4 linked regions of the Homo sapiens genome follow. The protein of the gene in region 3 purifies or fractionates together with the protein of the main gene of each other region. This does not show direct contact. Each region holds a gene or a part of one and is shown on either strand. Other genes may lie near its edges.

Region 1 (3,672 bases), on a different chromosome or scaffold from region 3:
TGGTTGTGTGAGAGGCTGTTGACCCCAGCTGTCTAGAGGGGCCTCCCGTGGTTGTGTGAGAGCCTGTTGACCCTGGCTGTAGAGGGGTCTTTTGGAGCAGGGGTGAAACCTCCAGTGCACTGAGCTGAGACCCCCTGGAAGCCGACTCTCTGTGATGAGTGAGTGAGTGAGTGGGTGAGTGGGTGGTTGCGTGTGTGTCATTGTGAGAGCCTGGTGCTTCAGGGGCTGAGGGCGTTTTTGTTGTTTCCTACACAGGAAGAATTAGGAAGGACTATTTCCCAGCTCGTTCATGCTTTTCAGACCACGGAGGCGCGTGAGTATGCTCTGCTGTAGTTGGGTGCATTTGTAGATGTCAGAACCTCTGAGCATCAGAGCCACCAGACCCAGGAGGTTTGTGTTCTCAAATCCAGAGTAAGGAATGCCTAAGGGCAAGAGAGCGCCAGCTGGTGTCTGTGGGTGCTTAGCATGTGTGCAGTGCTGGTGTAAGTATTCAACATGGATTAGCTCATTTACCCAAAACCCTCATTTCGAGCCTAATGGGCTAATATCTTACACTTTAAAAATAAAGTGAAAAGCCAGGATAATGTCACCAAGAGATTGGACTGAATTCCGCCTGATGGTCCTGAGGTTCCTGCAGTTGATTTTTCTGACTCCTCTGTTCTCTGGTGACCGGAGTTGAGAAGTTCTTACCCTGCCTGTCTGTAGGACTCACTTGAGGAGCCTCTAAAAATCCTCATGTCCAGATCCTGGTCCAGCAAGATCCAGTTCTGGGGGTAGGGCCTGGGCATCAGCATTTTTTATCTATAGCTATGTAAAGAACGGGTTCCTCCATGTTCTCACCTCCCTCCCCAGAGTGGCTTCGTGCTCCTCAGTGGTTCTCTTCTGGCTTATTCCTTCTCCAGAGCACCTGTTCCTTCAGGCCTTCTGGCAGACCATGAATCGCGAGTGGACGGGCATTGACAGGCTGCGCCTGGATAAATTCTACATGGTGAGGCAGCCACCAGGGTGCCGGCGGGCGGGGGCAGCGCGGGTCTCAGTGCCTGGCCAAGCGAGACAGGCGGCACCTGGGCAGGGAGGCAACCTGAGGCAGTGCGACCCTGAAGCCAGGGGTGGGAGGTGGAGCCGAGACTCTGGGCGGTCCCTGACCAGGGCTCTGCAGCTTTGTCCAGTCTCTGAGGGTCATTGAATGGGCAAGGAATTCGACCCTTAAAACACCACACAAACTTTTGGTTCAGAGAAGGAAAGTGACGATTGCTCTCCTGGTGAGAGTCGATGGTGACACCGTTGTTACCTTGTCAAAGAGGCAGAGTGAGTCTGGAGGCGCAGCAGAGGAGCTGCGGTCACGCCCTAGCATGAGCCCTGGAGTGCTTAGCCTGCGAGGCTGGGATGGATGGTCACAGTGTGGGACTTCCTTTCCCTCCTCCCTCATTGTATCCCCGTTCAGGGCACTGATTTGCCCTGAGAATACAGGGGAACACTGGGGTTTAGAGGTGCAGCGTGTTGCTGCCCGGACCTGCTTCTCTCCTTCCCTCCTTCCCTCTTGTTGAACCATGAGGTCTCGTTACTAAGGTGGTGGTCATTGTAACCTTAGAGCAGGCCTGAGATACAGGGACATTGTCACTGTGTAGGAGTCGGTCACCCAATGGGGACACTGAAAGGGGCCATGTCCGGGTCTCACTGAGGACAGATGTTGATCTGCCACTCTGGCTTCAGTGTCCAGCTCAGATTCGGGCCAGGATTGTGCAGACAGCATATATACCAGTGATTCTAGAAGTGGAGACCAGGGCGGGAAAGGCCTGGAGCTCAAGAAGGAAGGAGGCTCCAGGGCAGGCCAGGGGCCCGGCCATGCACTCAGACAGAGTGCAGACTCTTAGGGACAATGGGGCTCTGCAGGGAGGCCACCCTACTGTTTTGCTGAGATGTGGCTGCTGGGTCCCTGGATGGATGCGTTCTGCTGCTTTCCATGGCTCGTTTCTGGGTGCCCCTTGTGTGGCTGAGTCCAGCAGCACAGCCTTGCGTCAGGGCTAGCCTCGGTGGCACCGCAGGGTGTTGTGGGGGATAGGCCTCCTGTGTCTGCAAGAACAGTGTCCGGGCTGCTGGGCTGTGCTCTGTCATCGGGGCTCCTGGGGGTCCGCGTGTCCTCTGCTGCTACTGACTGCAGCTCAGACCCCACTCTGGGCGTGTGGGCATGCTGGGTCAGTAGCCTAAAGGGGGGACAACTGCAGAAGGGTGTTGAGCCCCATGGAGGGAAATGGCATTGTTGATTCACGGGTGAGGCTTGGCGGGAGGGCCTTCGCTGTGTAGTGGACCGCAGAGGAAGTGAGCTACATTCTGCCCGTTGCGGGGGGTTTGGTGAGGACCAGCCGTGTTTCAGACCTGGTTTTGCGGAGGGCTCCACCGCCCGTGGGGGTAGCCGTGCCTCTTTCCTGGTTCTCCCTTATGAATCGGACTGTTCCGTTTCAGCCCCGGTTTATGGACTGGAGTCGTAGGACTGTCCCCTATTACCCCCGACCCCCCATGCACCTGCTTCCTGCCAGCTGGGGCCTTGGAGCCGGGGATAGGGCATGTTCTCAGCCCAGGGTTCTGAGGGCTTGGTGGTGTGTCCTCCAGCGTCTGTCTGTCAGCAGCTCTGGGGGCCGGCTGTGTGCTGGGGCCGGCAGAGGTCACCACGGCCATGACTTTATCCTGCAGCGGATGGTGGTACATGGGGATGGGTGGTCTGGCGAAGTAGGGCTGGGCTTCTGCTAATGCCAACCTCCTTCTGTGTCAAAGCTCATGCGGATGGTCCTGAACGAGTCCTTGAAGGTTCTGAAGATGCAAGGCTGGGAAGAAAGGTGGGTGCGCGGCGGGCCTGCTCTGGGGGGACGCTGTTCTCGGGGACCGCAGTCGTGTTTGTCATTTGATTCTTTGCCATAAGGAGATGTCAGCCTTTATATTAACGCATGCCCCCAATCGTGCTTAGAGAGAAGATAGTTTTTAAAGTAAAAATCAGTTTGTGTGTTTGTGGAAATGATGCCATTTATCCTCAGGCTTGGAGGCCAGTTCTCACTGGGAGTCAGAAGGGAGTTTTTTAATGAAAGGGTGTCCAGCCGAGGAGCTTCTTATAAAAACACGGCATGTTCCGCTTCATTAGCAATGCTTTTTGTTTTTTTGAAATAGGTGTCACTGTTGCCTAGGCTGGAGTGCAGTGGCGTGATCTTGGCTCAACTACAGCCTTGACCTCCCGGGCTCAAGTGATCCTCCTGCCTCAGCCGCCCAACTGGCTGGGACTGCAGATGTGCACCACCAGGCCCACGTAATTTTTGTATCTTTTTTTGGTAGAGACGAGTTCTGTCCTGTTGCCCAGGCTTGTCTCAAACTCTTGGGCTCAAACAATCTGCCTGCCTAGGCCTCCCAAGTTGTAAGCAATGTTAATTGCTCCTAATTCTAAAAATATGTAAATTGGCTGGGCGCGGTGGCTCACATCTGTAATCCCAGCACTTTGGGAGGCCGAGGCGGGCAGATCACAAGGTCAAGAGATCGAGACCATCCTGGCCACCATGGTGAAACCGTGTCTCTACTAAAAGTACAAAAATTAGATAAATGCATAGAAAAGAATTAGCAGGCTGGTTATGGTGGGTTAAGGGGATCTCTTGAGCCCAGGAGTTTGAGGCTGCAGTGATCTGTGACTGA
Region 2 (4,386 bases), on a different chromosome or scaffold from region 3:
TGTGGTGAAACCCCATCTCTACTAAAAATACAAAAATTAGCCGGGCATGGTGGCGGGCACCTGTAGTCCCAGCTACTCAGGAGGCTGAAGGAGGAGAATCACTTGAACCTGGGAGGTGGAGGTTGCAGTGAGCCGAGATTGCACCACTGCACTCCAGCTTGAGCAACTGAGCGAGACTCCATCTCAAAAACAAAAACAAACAAACAAAAACACCAAGTTTAGAATTCTGTATGCTTATACCTGAAACTAAAATGTTAATATGTTTACATAGCTAAGAGAAACCAAATTATAATAGTACTGATATATGAAACACGAAGAGTCTGTGGTTTTTAAATTTACCCCTTATCACAGCCAAAAAAAATCTGATTTATAGCAAGCTTTATAAAAGCACTTCTAATGTGCACCGAAGTTTAGTTCTGTGGGACTAGTTACTAACTAGCTGTAGCACCTCCTAGGGTTGATCTTAAAGATGAACCTGTCTTCTTCAATGTGGTTTACCACTGGCAGCCATCCTTTTACTGCAAACCTGCCATCAATTAATTTATATTTTCGTATACACATTCAGAAAACAAAACAACAATAAAAAAAGAAAATCATACAACTTCCTGAAAATTAAGAGTGGCTTTCTACTAATTAAAAAGTTGAAAATCTAAAATTAGTGAATGCTTAGGTATTATTTTAACATACGTGATTGAGGGGATGGGTGGTTGGGGGGCTGGCTAAATACAAAACTAAGGAAGCAAAAAGAAGAAAAGTGGTTCACGTTTCCATACTGTCACATACCAATCTCATCACTGTCAAAGTCATCTGAGTATTCAGAACTCCTTTGTCTGGCTGAGCGAGCTGTAATTGCTCTTATTAGCTCATCCTGAAATGAGATACTGAAATCAATTTCCATCCAAACATGGAGGTATCATATTCACAAGTAATTCTTTAAACAAACAATGCTTGATTAACGACTGCTTTCAAACTTAGGTTTCATTCATCTAACAAATATTTCCTGCAAGCTCACTTTATGCCATGTACCCACTTTACGCCTCATACTCAATGCAGAGCATCACAGACAAGAGCCCTTCCTCATGGAGCTCGCAGTTTAACTAGAGGAGACACACATTATGGAACAAATTAATTGCAGGTTATAATTAGAGCTGGAGGGTAACAAATAAGAAGGGGCTCAATTTAGATTATAATTTATTAAAAACTGGTATTTTGAAAGAAATTGGTATTTTTAAGAGCTTTTGTCTCGGCATATTTCAGAAATGGATGCAATCAATATTGCAAACTTAGAGGCTGAGTTCAAAATTGCAGTGACTCAACAGAAAAAAAAACTTAAACATTATGTTACAACAGAAAAAAAAGTTTTTATATAAAAATGGCAATTTAAGGTTGCGATTCAACTTTTAACTTAGTAGGAAACTAGTATTGAGGCTACTTTGGTAGTCTTAAAACCATATAGGGGAGTTTGTAATACTGGATGGAGCCCAAACATGATCATGTGCAAAACCTCAAAAGTAATATAAGATTTACCCCTGCTTTATATAGGACTGTTCTAGAATCACCAATTTCAACCCATCTAATACAGTGTTTACACTGTGAAATGATTCCAAATAAAAATACTTTACCTGGAAAGTAGTTCTTTTGGTAACTTTTGGACTCTTTGTATATGCCAAAGTGGTGCTAAAAACTTCATCAGACATAGTGTATTTTTTCTCGTTACCTTTATAAAATAGCTAATTATTAGAATTCAACTTCTGATAGTAGCTGAAATATACAAAACAAATCAGACTTCGCATGCTTCAGAATTTATTTTATTACATTTGATTCTACTCTCCCCACAAAGGTCAAAGAAAAGCATCTGATATGAACATTGGGCTACATCTTCACTTAAAAAGGTTCTTGTAAAGAAATAGCAAATTCTCATAACAAGCTTGTTTAAAAAAATTCAAATGGAAGTTATCCTAAAATAGTTTTGCAACTACTTAAAAAGTCTGCAAATAAATGATTACAAGTTAATACGACAAAATGCTGCCAATTAAAATAGAACACCTTATTTTTCACCTCTCTTCTAAAGTATAACATTGCCTTCAAAATAAGTCACGTCTTATTTAAAAGGCCATCAAAAGGATCGTCGGCGTAAAAATTATGAGCACCACCACCAAAAAAAAAATGTATCTATATATTTGCATACAGCGCTATTCAAAGAAAAAGATCGTAATGCTAACCCGCAAACAGCCAGCGAGATGTATTGCAAGCCAATTTTTCCTCTCACAAAAGTGTTAAAGAGAGCCAGACAAAACGACGAAGCTTTCGCGATGAGCCGCATTAAAATCGCGGTTTCCCGTACTCGGAGCAGAGGCCTGGCAGGGCCGCCCATAGCGTTGTGCGCCCCGGGTTCCGTTCCCTACCAGGCCAGGTGACGTCCGGGTGCTCGCCGCTCCTCACCGCGCCGTATGCTGAGCACCAGCGAACGCCAGGCCCGTGCACGTCCAAGCGCGGTCTCTGTCCGGATCCCCCATGGCCCCCAGGTCCCGCTTTCTGTTCCCGGCCCCGGACGCCCGCGGCCAGTTCTCCGCGACCCTGAGAATCAAGAGCCAAGCATCGGGTAGGAGCTGCTCACCTTGGTCTGGGCCTGGCGGCGCCCGCAGAGCCGGTCCTGGACCGAGCGAGGAGGAGGGGCTAATAACAGAGGCGGAGGGCGGTTGCTAGGAAACAGCGTCTTCGGGAGGAAGTGACTTCCCCACCGCCGGGTCTCTCGGGTACCCAACACCGCTCTTCGGCCCAACGTGTCGCTGGGGCAACCACCCAGACGAAGGAAGTGACATCACCTTCCTGGGTCTTTGGAGAGGGGCTCATTATTGGTCGCTTGTGTGCATGTGCTGTTGCCTAGGAGACAGGACCCGCCCAACTCCCACCCAGATAGCCTTACTCTTGCCAATAGAGTAAGGGTCCTTATCTGCACGTGTTGCAAATAAAGCACATTCGTCGTTTTGCCACAGTTAGGACGTGAAGTTCTCTGAATCGAAGTACGGTGTCAGTGGATGGGACAGAATAGTACGGTAGTGAGTTTGCAGAACCCTGTTTCCGACTGCAGGTTTGAATCCTGGTACCCCTTTCCTACACACGTGATTGTCCCAAGTTAAGGTCTTTATGACTCAGTTTCTTCTTCTGGGGGAAAACAAAAGTGTACTAATAATAGACACCTGAAAGGTTGCTGTAAAATTGAATGAAATAATACAAGTGGAACACTTGGAAGAGTGCCTGGAATTGTATTCGATATTAGATATGCTCTTCATGCAACTAAGCCGCAAAGGGCCTGGAGAGACCTCAGCTCTTGTGGACACAACTGAAAGCCCATTTGACATCTTACTTGAATGTAAAACTCCCCCTCTTTGTATACTTAGTGAGTAATCTTATTCCAATCAAACCAAACAAAATGATCCACTAGGCTAAAAGAGCATGTGCTACTAAAGTAAACAAAATCAACATCATTTAATTCGCATAGGAAATTCTTAAAGCAAATAAAAACCAAAAACGTTTATTGAAAGTCTTTAAAATAATATGAATTTTTACTATTTTTAATTTTTAAAAAGCTTAATCCTAGTTGAATTATCTGAATGAATTCATTGACTAGTAATTAAACTCATACCTGGTATTTTTTCCACATCTCTAAAATATGTTAATATTTCACTAATTCAATTTTGTATAAACAAATCACATTGAGATAGAAATTTAATAAATCAATGTATTGAAAAACTAAATGTGCATAACAAGAAATAAGAAATTTAGTAAAATACAATGCTGTATTAATCAGGGTTCTCTAGATGGACAGAACTAATAGTATATATATATTATATTATATATATTATATAATATATTATATATATAATATATATTATATAATATATTATATATATATGTCCACTCATCTGTATCCATTTATGAAGCTGAAAATGTACACCACCTCTACACACACATACCCAGAATAGAAAATGCTCCCTATTTTCTATTAACTCATGGCACTACTGTTGAACCCTTCCAGGTTCACCTCATGCTCCTGGAACCTCCTTTCCACTGTAAAACATTCTCTCACTTTTTCCTCTATAATCGCATTCTTATCTTAGCTAAGCAAAACTATTTTCTGAATAAACTATCTCCCTGAGGGCTTTTCAAATAGGGACTGCTGTAGAAGGAAGATTTCTAAGTTCTCCTAGGTCCTCACATACTCAGTGACTGCTCTCCTATTACTCCAAACCCTTCCTCCTCACAAGCCAATATTCTATGTTCTATTTCTCAGTTTCTGTCATCAATAGATATATAGGCCCTTCTCCCACATTCACTGAATATCTACAGCCAACCTATCCAATACCTGAGATCACACCAAGGTAT
Region 3 (4,019 bases):
AAAATAGTTTATTCTTACTATTTTTTAAAATTAGAATATTGAGAAGAAGGAAAAAAAATACCTATGTTTCCACTACTATAATGGAAACTTTGCCATCATTTTGCTTTTGGTTGACATCTCCCCCTCCCCCATTTTTAAAAATTAAAATTGACTCTCTTTCTTTCCTTCTTTCTTTTTCTTTTTTTAAAGATGATGTCTTGCTATGTTGTCCATGCTGGACTCACACTCCAGAGCCCAAGCGATCCTCCCTCTTCAGCCTCCTGGATAGCTGGGACTACAGGGATGTGCCACCACACCTGGCTTAAACCAATTTCTTTTTAATTCATAATTTTTAAATCAAAACAATTTACTCAACTCTTTATTTTGAAAAGTTTTAAACCTCAAAAAAGTTGAAAGAATAGTACAATGAACACTCACGTACCCTTACTCTAGCACCAATAATTCACCAATTATTAACATTTTGACTGTGTCCCCCTCTGCCATAATATACTTTTCTTTTTTTCTGAAACCAGCTGATTGATTAGGGTGGTGGTTGCTGAAAGGTGAGGTGCTGTGGCAATTTCTTAAAATAACACAACAATGAAGTTTGCTGCATGGATTGACTCTTCCTTTCATGAAAGATTTCTCAGTAGCATGTGATGCTAATTGGTAGCATTTTATCCACAGTAGAATGTTCAAAATTGTAGTCAATCCTCTCAAACCCTGCCACTGCTTTATCAACTAAGTTTACGAAATATTCTAAATCCTTCATTGTCATTTCAACAGTGTTCCCAGCATCTTCACCAGGAGTAGATTGTATCTCAAGAAACCACTTTCTTTGGTCATACATTAGAAGGAACTGTTCATCCATTCAAGTTTCTCACGAGATTGCCACAATTCAGTCATATCTTCAGGCTCCGCTTGTAATTTTAGTTTTCTTGCTATTTCCAACCACATCTGCAGTTACCTCCTTCACTGAAGTCTTGAACCTCTCAAAGTCATCAATGAGAACTGGAGTCAACTTCTTCCGAACTCTTGTTAATTTTGATATTTTGACATCTTCCCATGAATCACAAATGTTCTTAATGATATCTAAAATAGTGAACCCTTTCCAGAAGGTTTTCAATATACTTTGCCCAGATCCATCAGAGGAATAACTCTCTATGGCAGCCATAGCCTTACGAAATGTATCTTAAGTAATAAAACTTGAAATGCAAAATTACTTCTTGATCCATGGGCTGAAGAATGGATCTTGTGTTCACAGACATGAAAACAACATTCATCTCCTTATACATCTCCATTAGAGCTCTCGTGTGACTATGCACATTTTCAATGAGCAATAATACTTTGAGAGAAATCCTTTTTTCTGAGCAGTAGGCCTCAACAGTGGGCTTAAAATATTCAGTAAACCATGCTATGAACAGTTGTGCTGTCATCCAGGCTTTGTTGTTCTACTTACAGAGCACAGGCAGATTATATTTAGCGTAATTCTTAAGAGACCTAAGATTTTTATAATAGAATGGTAAACAAGCACTGGCTTCAATCCAAAGTCACTAGCTGCATTAGCCTCTAACAAAAGAGTGAGCTTGGCCTTTGAGGCCAGACATTGACCTCTCTAGCTATGAAAGTCCTTGATGGCGTCTTCTTCCAATAGAAGGCTGTTTTGTCTACATTGACTACTTGCTGTTCAGTGGCCACCTTCATCAACGATCTTACCTAGATCTTGGGGATAACTTGCTGCAGCTTCTCCATCAGCATTTGCTGCCTCATCTTACACTTTCATGTTCTGGAGACGGCTTCTTTCCTTAAACCTCATGAAATAATCTCTTCTAGCTTCAAACTTCTATAGCTTCCTCACCTCTCTCAGTCATCATAGAATAGAAGAGAATCAGGGCCTTGCTTTGGATTCGGTTTTGGGTTTAGGGGATGCTGTAGCCGGTTTTATTTTCTATCCAAACCACTAAAATTTTCTCCAAATCAGCAATAAACTGTTTCGCTTTCATATCATTCATGTGTTCATTAGAGTAAAATGTTTAATTTCCTTCAGTAACTTTTCCTTTGCATTCACAAACTGGCTAACTTTTTGGTGCAAACTTTCAGCCTAGCTTTCAGCCTATCTTGCCTTTTGACATCCCTTCCTCACTAAGCTTAACCATTTCTAGCTTTTGAGTTAAAGTGAGAGATGTGCGACTCTTTCTTTCACTTGAACACTTAGAGGCCCATTGTAGGGTTATTAATTGACCTAATTTCAACACTGTTGTGTCTCAGGGAATAGAGACCCAAGGAAAGGGAGAGAGAAGGAAGAACGGCCTGTCAGTGGATTAGTCTGAACACACACAACATTTATCAATTACGTTTGTATCTTATATGGGCACAGCTCATGGCGCCCCAAAACAATTACAATACAAGGAACACTCATCACACGTCACCCTTGTAGCAGAGCACATCTCCCTATGATCTAGGTACGAGCATTGTACCTAGGATGGACGCGTTCGTCCTCTTACCTTCGGGAACGCCCTACTCTGTCTACGGAGTAAAGTACTTAATAAACTTGCTTTTGCTTTGCTATGCGGACTCACCCTGAATTCTTTCCTGTGCAAGATCCAAGAACCCTCTCTTGGGGTCTGGATCGAGACCCCTTTCCGGTAACGAAACTACACTAAGAATACAAGAAAACTTACGTTACTGTGCGGGAGCTGACAAAGTCTCTCGCCGGAGGGAGCACACAGAATTTCACCTTCTCCGGCCTTTTCCCAAGCTGGCAGGAGTAAAGCTGTAAGAGGAGGTGCCAGCGCCCCAAGCCAGCTCTCCCGCCGGCACTGCTGCGGTCCGCGAGGCAGCCAATCAGGTAGCTGAGTTTGCCATAGGGGCGGGACTTCCTCCCCAGCGCGCACGAGTACGTGCGTGGAGGTCCCGCCCCGGAACTGCAGTTGCTGCTGCAGCTGAGGTACAGCGGCGGTTTCTGAGGTTCTTCACTCGCGACTGACGGAGCTGCGGTGGCGTCTCCACACGGTGAGTACCAAAACGAGCGGGGTTGGAGCCGACTCTGGAGAGGGGCTGAGGCCAGGAACCCGGGTTCCTATCGCGGGTCGCTCTGGGCCGGTGGGTTCCCGGGTCCAGAGAGGGCGGCCGCCGGCCCAAGCCGTCCAACCGAGCTGCGTGCCACGGTCCCCGCGCCTTGGGCTCCTTGTCCGGTCATCAGAGCCTGACGGCCTTGGCTTCTCGGCTTCTCGGTTTCTCGGTTTCGTGCGCGCGTTCGTGCCTGAGACAAAGCGAGAGGGCCGCGCGGGACCGGCGTCACGAGGAGACAGAGGCCCTTCTACTCTGCCTGGCGCTCTCCGTGTCCTCGCCCGGTTCGCGTGGCACCCCTCGCCCTCTCCTTGTTGAACCCCGCGTGTTTCTTTGTGTTTTTTTTTGTTTGTTTTTTGTTTTTTTGCCGTGGCGCAGCGGGTCCGGCGGGCACTGTGTGCGAACGTGCTCTCCTCGCCGGGCGCCATGCTCAGCGGTTTTTTTTGACGTGCGTCACTTTTTCGTAGTGGCGTATAAGGATTCTGTGGGACAGATGTCCTCGTTTTTCCCATTGTGCAGACTGGGAAATAAGAGACTCAGAGATTAATACGTCCACCGCAGAGCCACAGCTGACAAGTGGTGGATCTGGATTTGAACCAAAGTTTACCTTGGTCTTTTTCACGGAATCTGTTATCTTTCTTGGCCTTTCTGAAAAGGAAAAACCTGGATCGAGTTCCACCCAAACGAGTTGGGCCTAAATGGCCATTAAGCCACTTAAAATATGATGAAGAAACTGGATGGGTTTTAAGACGCTTGGCAAAGGAAAGGATGGTGGAGCAGGCATTTGCTCTCTCAGGCAAGGCTTGAGAAGGAAGCAAGCGCAGTACGCTTTTAATAAAGCTCACCCCTCCTGCCCCCACAAGAAAAACCCCTGAGATTCTTACTCTGCCTTCAGAACGACTTAGGTGTGGCAGGTTTCATCCTCCGTGCTTTACATAATTTTCTTTATTTACATAAAATGTACAACTTAG
Region 4 (3,672 bases), on a different chromosome or scaffold from region 3:
TTTCAGACAAAAATCCTATGTAACACATAGGATAAAGGGCTGCTAATAACAGCAGCAGCAATTTACTGAACAATTACTATGTGATAAACCCAGAGCAAAAAGGCATCACTTCTGAATTCATTAAACTGAGCCCTATGGGGCAGATACCATTATAACTCCCATTTACACAATATATACAACTAAGGTCCAAAGAAATTAAGATATTTCTCAAGGTCATATAACTTGCAGAAACCAGAGTTGGGATTCAAACCCAAGCCATCAAACTTCAGAGTCTATGCACTTAGGAAATGCATCAAAAATCTGATGTTATGGTGATAGTTTTTTTGTTTGTTTTTGAAACAGTCTTGCTCTGTCACCCAAGCTAGAGTGCAGTGATGCAATCAGAGCTCACTGCAGCCTTGAACTCCTGGGCTCAAGTGATACTCCCACCTCAGCCTACCGAGTACCTGGGATGTGCCACCATGCCTGGCTACTTTTTTTCTCTTGTAGAGACAGCATCTTGCTGTGTTGACCAGGGTGGTTTAGAACTCCTTTTTTTTGAAATAGAGTTTCCCTCTTGTCACCCAGGCTTGAGTGCAATGGCGTAATCTCGGCCCACTGCAACCTCCACCTCCCAGGTTCAAGCAATTCTCCTGCCTCAGCCTCCGGAGTAGCTGGGATTACAGGCACGCACCACCATGCCTGGCTAATTTTTGTATTTTTAGTAGAGACAGGGTTTCACCATGTTGGCCAGGCTAATCTCGAACTTCTTACCTAAGGTGATCTGCCCGCCTCGGCCTCCCAAAGTGCTGGGATTACAGGAGTGAGCCACCACGCCTGGTTGGTTTAGAACCCTTGGCCGCAAGCAATCCTCTTACCTCGGCCTCCCAAAGTGCTGGAATTATAGGTGTGAGCCACTGTACCCTGCCTTGAATGAATTTTTAAATCTTTTTCCCATTAAGAAAAAGAAGATATAGAAAATTACCTTTTCGCTTTGGCTGGAAGGAGGATATCAGCTCGAGGGAAGGCAGTGGACGGTAATTGGCCTGTATCGCGGGTAACGGGAGGTCTGGCAACACTGGCAACACATCAGGCACCTGCAGGGGACAGACCCATGGGTGGAGAGTCAGTGAGTAGAAGCACAGCTCTCTTTCCTACAGTCTATTCCCGGGAGCATTAACTGGACATCTTGCACAGGAAGATCCAGGTTGGAGGGGGCCACAGTCATGTCTGACACCACCTCAGTCAGGAAATAAATACAGATGAGCCCATCACAAGAGAATAATGCAGAAAATTCTTATTTGCGGTACCATATACCCTGACAACCAGTGAAGCCCAGAGGAAATTACTGCACACTGAAATTCAACATGCCCCCCAAAAGCAAGCTAAGGAAAACAGTGGCAGGGCAATCCTCTGAGCTCTGCAGGGCCAGGTGCTCTGGGTGGGAAGCCACCAAGGGGCTGAAGGGGTTACCTTTCTCAGCTTGGCTAAATCAGCTCCAGCCGGCTTCTCTGACTTGGTTTTGTTCACCTTGGGTAATTTCTGAACTGAGTCCAAGTTTTTACCAGTGCTTTTAGAGTCATTTTTTTTAAGTCCTTTATCTCCAAGTGCCGTGGCTGAAGTTTTCACAATCTTTTTCTTTTTCTTCCGGGGCTGGTCATAGCTGAGGTAGGATTCAAAAGACATGGTTGGCTGCTCGAATTCATCCTCCATATCTGTCTCCTCAACTTTAGGGAGGGAGCCCAGTGACTTTCTATCCAAATTAGTTTTGACTTTCCCTTCTGGAGTCTTTAGGTTGTTAGAACCCTTCTCTTTTACCTTGGGCAACAGGTCTCCTGCTCCTTTTCCTGTGTCAAAGCTGTCCAGACCTTGCTTGCTTTTGTCCAATTTGGCTTTCTCTGGGTCTCTGTGCTTTGGCTTTTTCAGGTGGTTGTCTGAAGCGGCCTCTGAGGGAGGCAAACACTTCTTCTTCAGGCTGCTGCCCTCTCTGTCCTTCTCTTTCTTTACGCCACTAGAGGGCGGTTTCTCCCTTGCATTGTCCCCTGAGGGTGGCCTTCGGTTCTCCTCTTTGGAGAGGGCCTTGTGTGATTTCTCTCTGCTCACCACAGAGGCCTTCTCATCACTCTTGGCATCCACGGGGCGTTTGTCCTTGTGGGAAGATTTGTGCTCCTTGTTTTGACTCACAACCCCTTTCCCATGGGGTTCACCCAGGTGTCGTTCTTGGCTGGCCCCGAGTCTGTCCTGAAAGGCATTGCTGTGGCCTTTCCCAGGCTTCTGGTGTGAAACAATGGGCTCCTGGTCCTCCTCCAGGGATCTGTAGTGGTCGACGTACATCTGATGAGGACTGGTACAAGATGGAGGGGATTGAACATGGCCATAATCAGAAGACTCAGGGTCTGAAGAGTAAGTTGGTGACATTCTGTGACACCTCTTTCTCTCATCTCTCCTCTCATGACCGTGAGACACTTTGTGAGGTCTCTCGAGCTCCGAGAGTTTCCTATGTTTCTTCTGCCTGTGGTCAGGGCTATAGGATCGGCTCCCCGTGGCTTTCCAGGTTTCTTGGTAGTCCCCCTCCATCTCCTCCTCCTTCTGCAGGGCATCCCGAGGGCGCTTTCGGGAATTGCTCTTCTCAAAGTCCTGTTCATCAGGCTCAGCATTTCTAAAATAAAAGAAAAAGCAGACAAAGTAGGTCTAAATCTTGCTTCTTGAGGGACAAAGTCACAGAATCTGAACTCACCAAAGAAGTGAAGATGCAGAGTTAGAAACAACAAGGTCTTAAGAAGAAGATAAGTAGGTTATGCTTAAAGATACTCAAATCTTAAAACTGGGAAAACCCAAATGAGAAATGGTGAGTTTAACCACAAGATGCAAAGATCAAATATCTCATATACATGAAAATGTGGAGATTTATTAAAACATGGGGACATGTTTAATTTGTTATATAAAATGGGGGCTGCTCACTATTTATCTAGTTCACAACTTAAAAAAATGCCATTTAAGGAGCAGTTAGAAAGAAACATACCAGGCCAGCCGCGGTGGCTCACGCCTGTAATCCCAGCACTTTGGGAGGCCGAGGCGGGCAGATCACGAGGTCAGGAGATCAAAACCATCCTATCCTGGCTAATACGGCGAAACCCTGTCTCTACTAAAAATACAAAAAATTAGCCGGGCGTGGTGGCGGGTGCCTGTGGTCCCAGCTACTCAGGAGGCTGAGGCAGGAGAATGGCGTGAACCTGGGAGGCGGAGCTTGCAGTGAGCCGAGATCACGCCACTGCACTCCAGCCTGGGCAACAGAGCGAGACTCTGTCTCAAAAAAAAAAAAAAAAAAAAAAAGAAACGTACCAAAATGTTCATAACGTTTGTCTTTGCGTGATAGAAATAGGAAATTTTGATTTCTATTTTTAATATTTTCTAATATTCTACAATGATCATGGATTATTTTTTATAATTGAGGCAAAACAATTTCAGAAGGCAAAAGAGAAATAATAAAGAAAACCTTTTCTATCTGTAAATTTAACCATGAAATTGAACAAACCTAAAGAGAAATGTTCTTACCGTTCCACAGGAACCAGCTTCTTCCACTGGGCCACTAGGTCCCTGGCAAAGCTTCCAACATGCTCGTGTTTTCGCAAGCTATTTACTGTTTTCCCAACCCCAGTCTCCTAAAATTTGACAAAGTAATTGTTAGAGGGG

What was found. Proteins that work in one complex are often made in the same cells at the same time.
Region 1: the proteins of IFI27L1 (region 3) and RRP1 purify together in Homo sapiens (affinity purification with mass spectrometry; one large-scale study listed by BioGRID and IntAct). This does not show direct contact.
Region 2: the proteins of IFI27L1 (region 3) and MAP9 purify together in Homo sapiens (affinity purification with mass spectrometry; one large-scale study listed by BioGRID and IntAct). This does not show direct contact.
Region 4: the proteins of IFI27L1 (region 3) and ELOA purify together in Homo sapiens (affinity purification with mass spectrometry; one large-scale study listed by BioGRID and IntAct). This does not show direct contact.

The regions. Positions count from the first base shown.
Region 1 is NC_000021.9:43,792,417-43,796,088, forward strand, and holds part of RRP1 (ribosomal RNA processing protein 1 homolog A), read left to right. Parts: intron 1-255; coding exon 256-313; intron 314-902; coding exon 903-988; intron 989-2,772; coding exon 2,773-2,834; intron 2,835-3,672. UniProt on the Homo sapiens protein: Plays a critical role in the generation of 28S rRNA.
Region 2 is NC_000004.12:155,374,154-155,378,539, forward strand, and holds the start of MAP9 (microtubule-associated protein 9), read right to left. Parts: upstream 2,813-4,386; 5' UTR 2,618-2,812; exon of another isoform or gene 2,223-2,617; intron 1,762-2,222; 5' UTR 1,698-1,761; coding exon 1,623-1,697; intron 869-1,622; coding exon 784-868; intron 1-783. UniProt on the Homo sapiens protein: Involved in organization of the bipolar mitotic spindle. Required for bipolar spindle assembly, mitosis progression and cytokinesis. May act by stabilizing interphase microtubules.
Region 3 is NC_000014.9:94,080,091-94,084,109, reverse strand, and holds the start of IFI27L1 (interferon alpha-inducible protein 27-like protein 1 precursor), read right to left. Parts: upstream 2,801-4,019; 5' UTR 2,661-2,800; intron 1-2,660. UniProt on the Homo sapiens protein: Plays a role in the apoptotic process and has a pro-apoptotic activity.
Region 4 is NC_000001.11:23,749,811-23,753,482, reverse strand, and holds part of ELOA (elongin-A), read right to left. Parts: intron 3,642-3,672; coding exon 3,535-3,641; intron 2,639-3,534; coding exon 1,453-2,638; intron 1,077-1,452; coding exon 965-1,076; intron 1-964. UniProt on the Homo sapiens protein: SIII, also known as elongin, is a general transcription elongation factor that increases the RNA polymerase II transcription elongation past template-encoded arresting sites.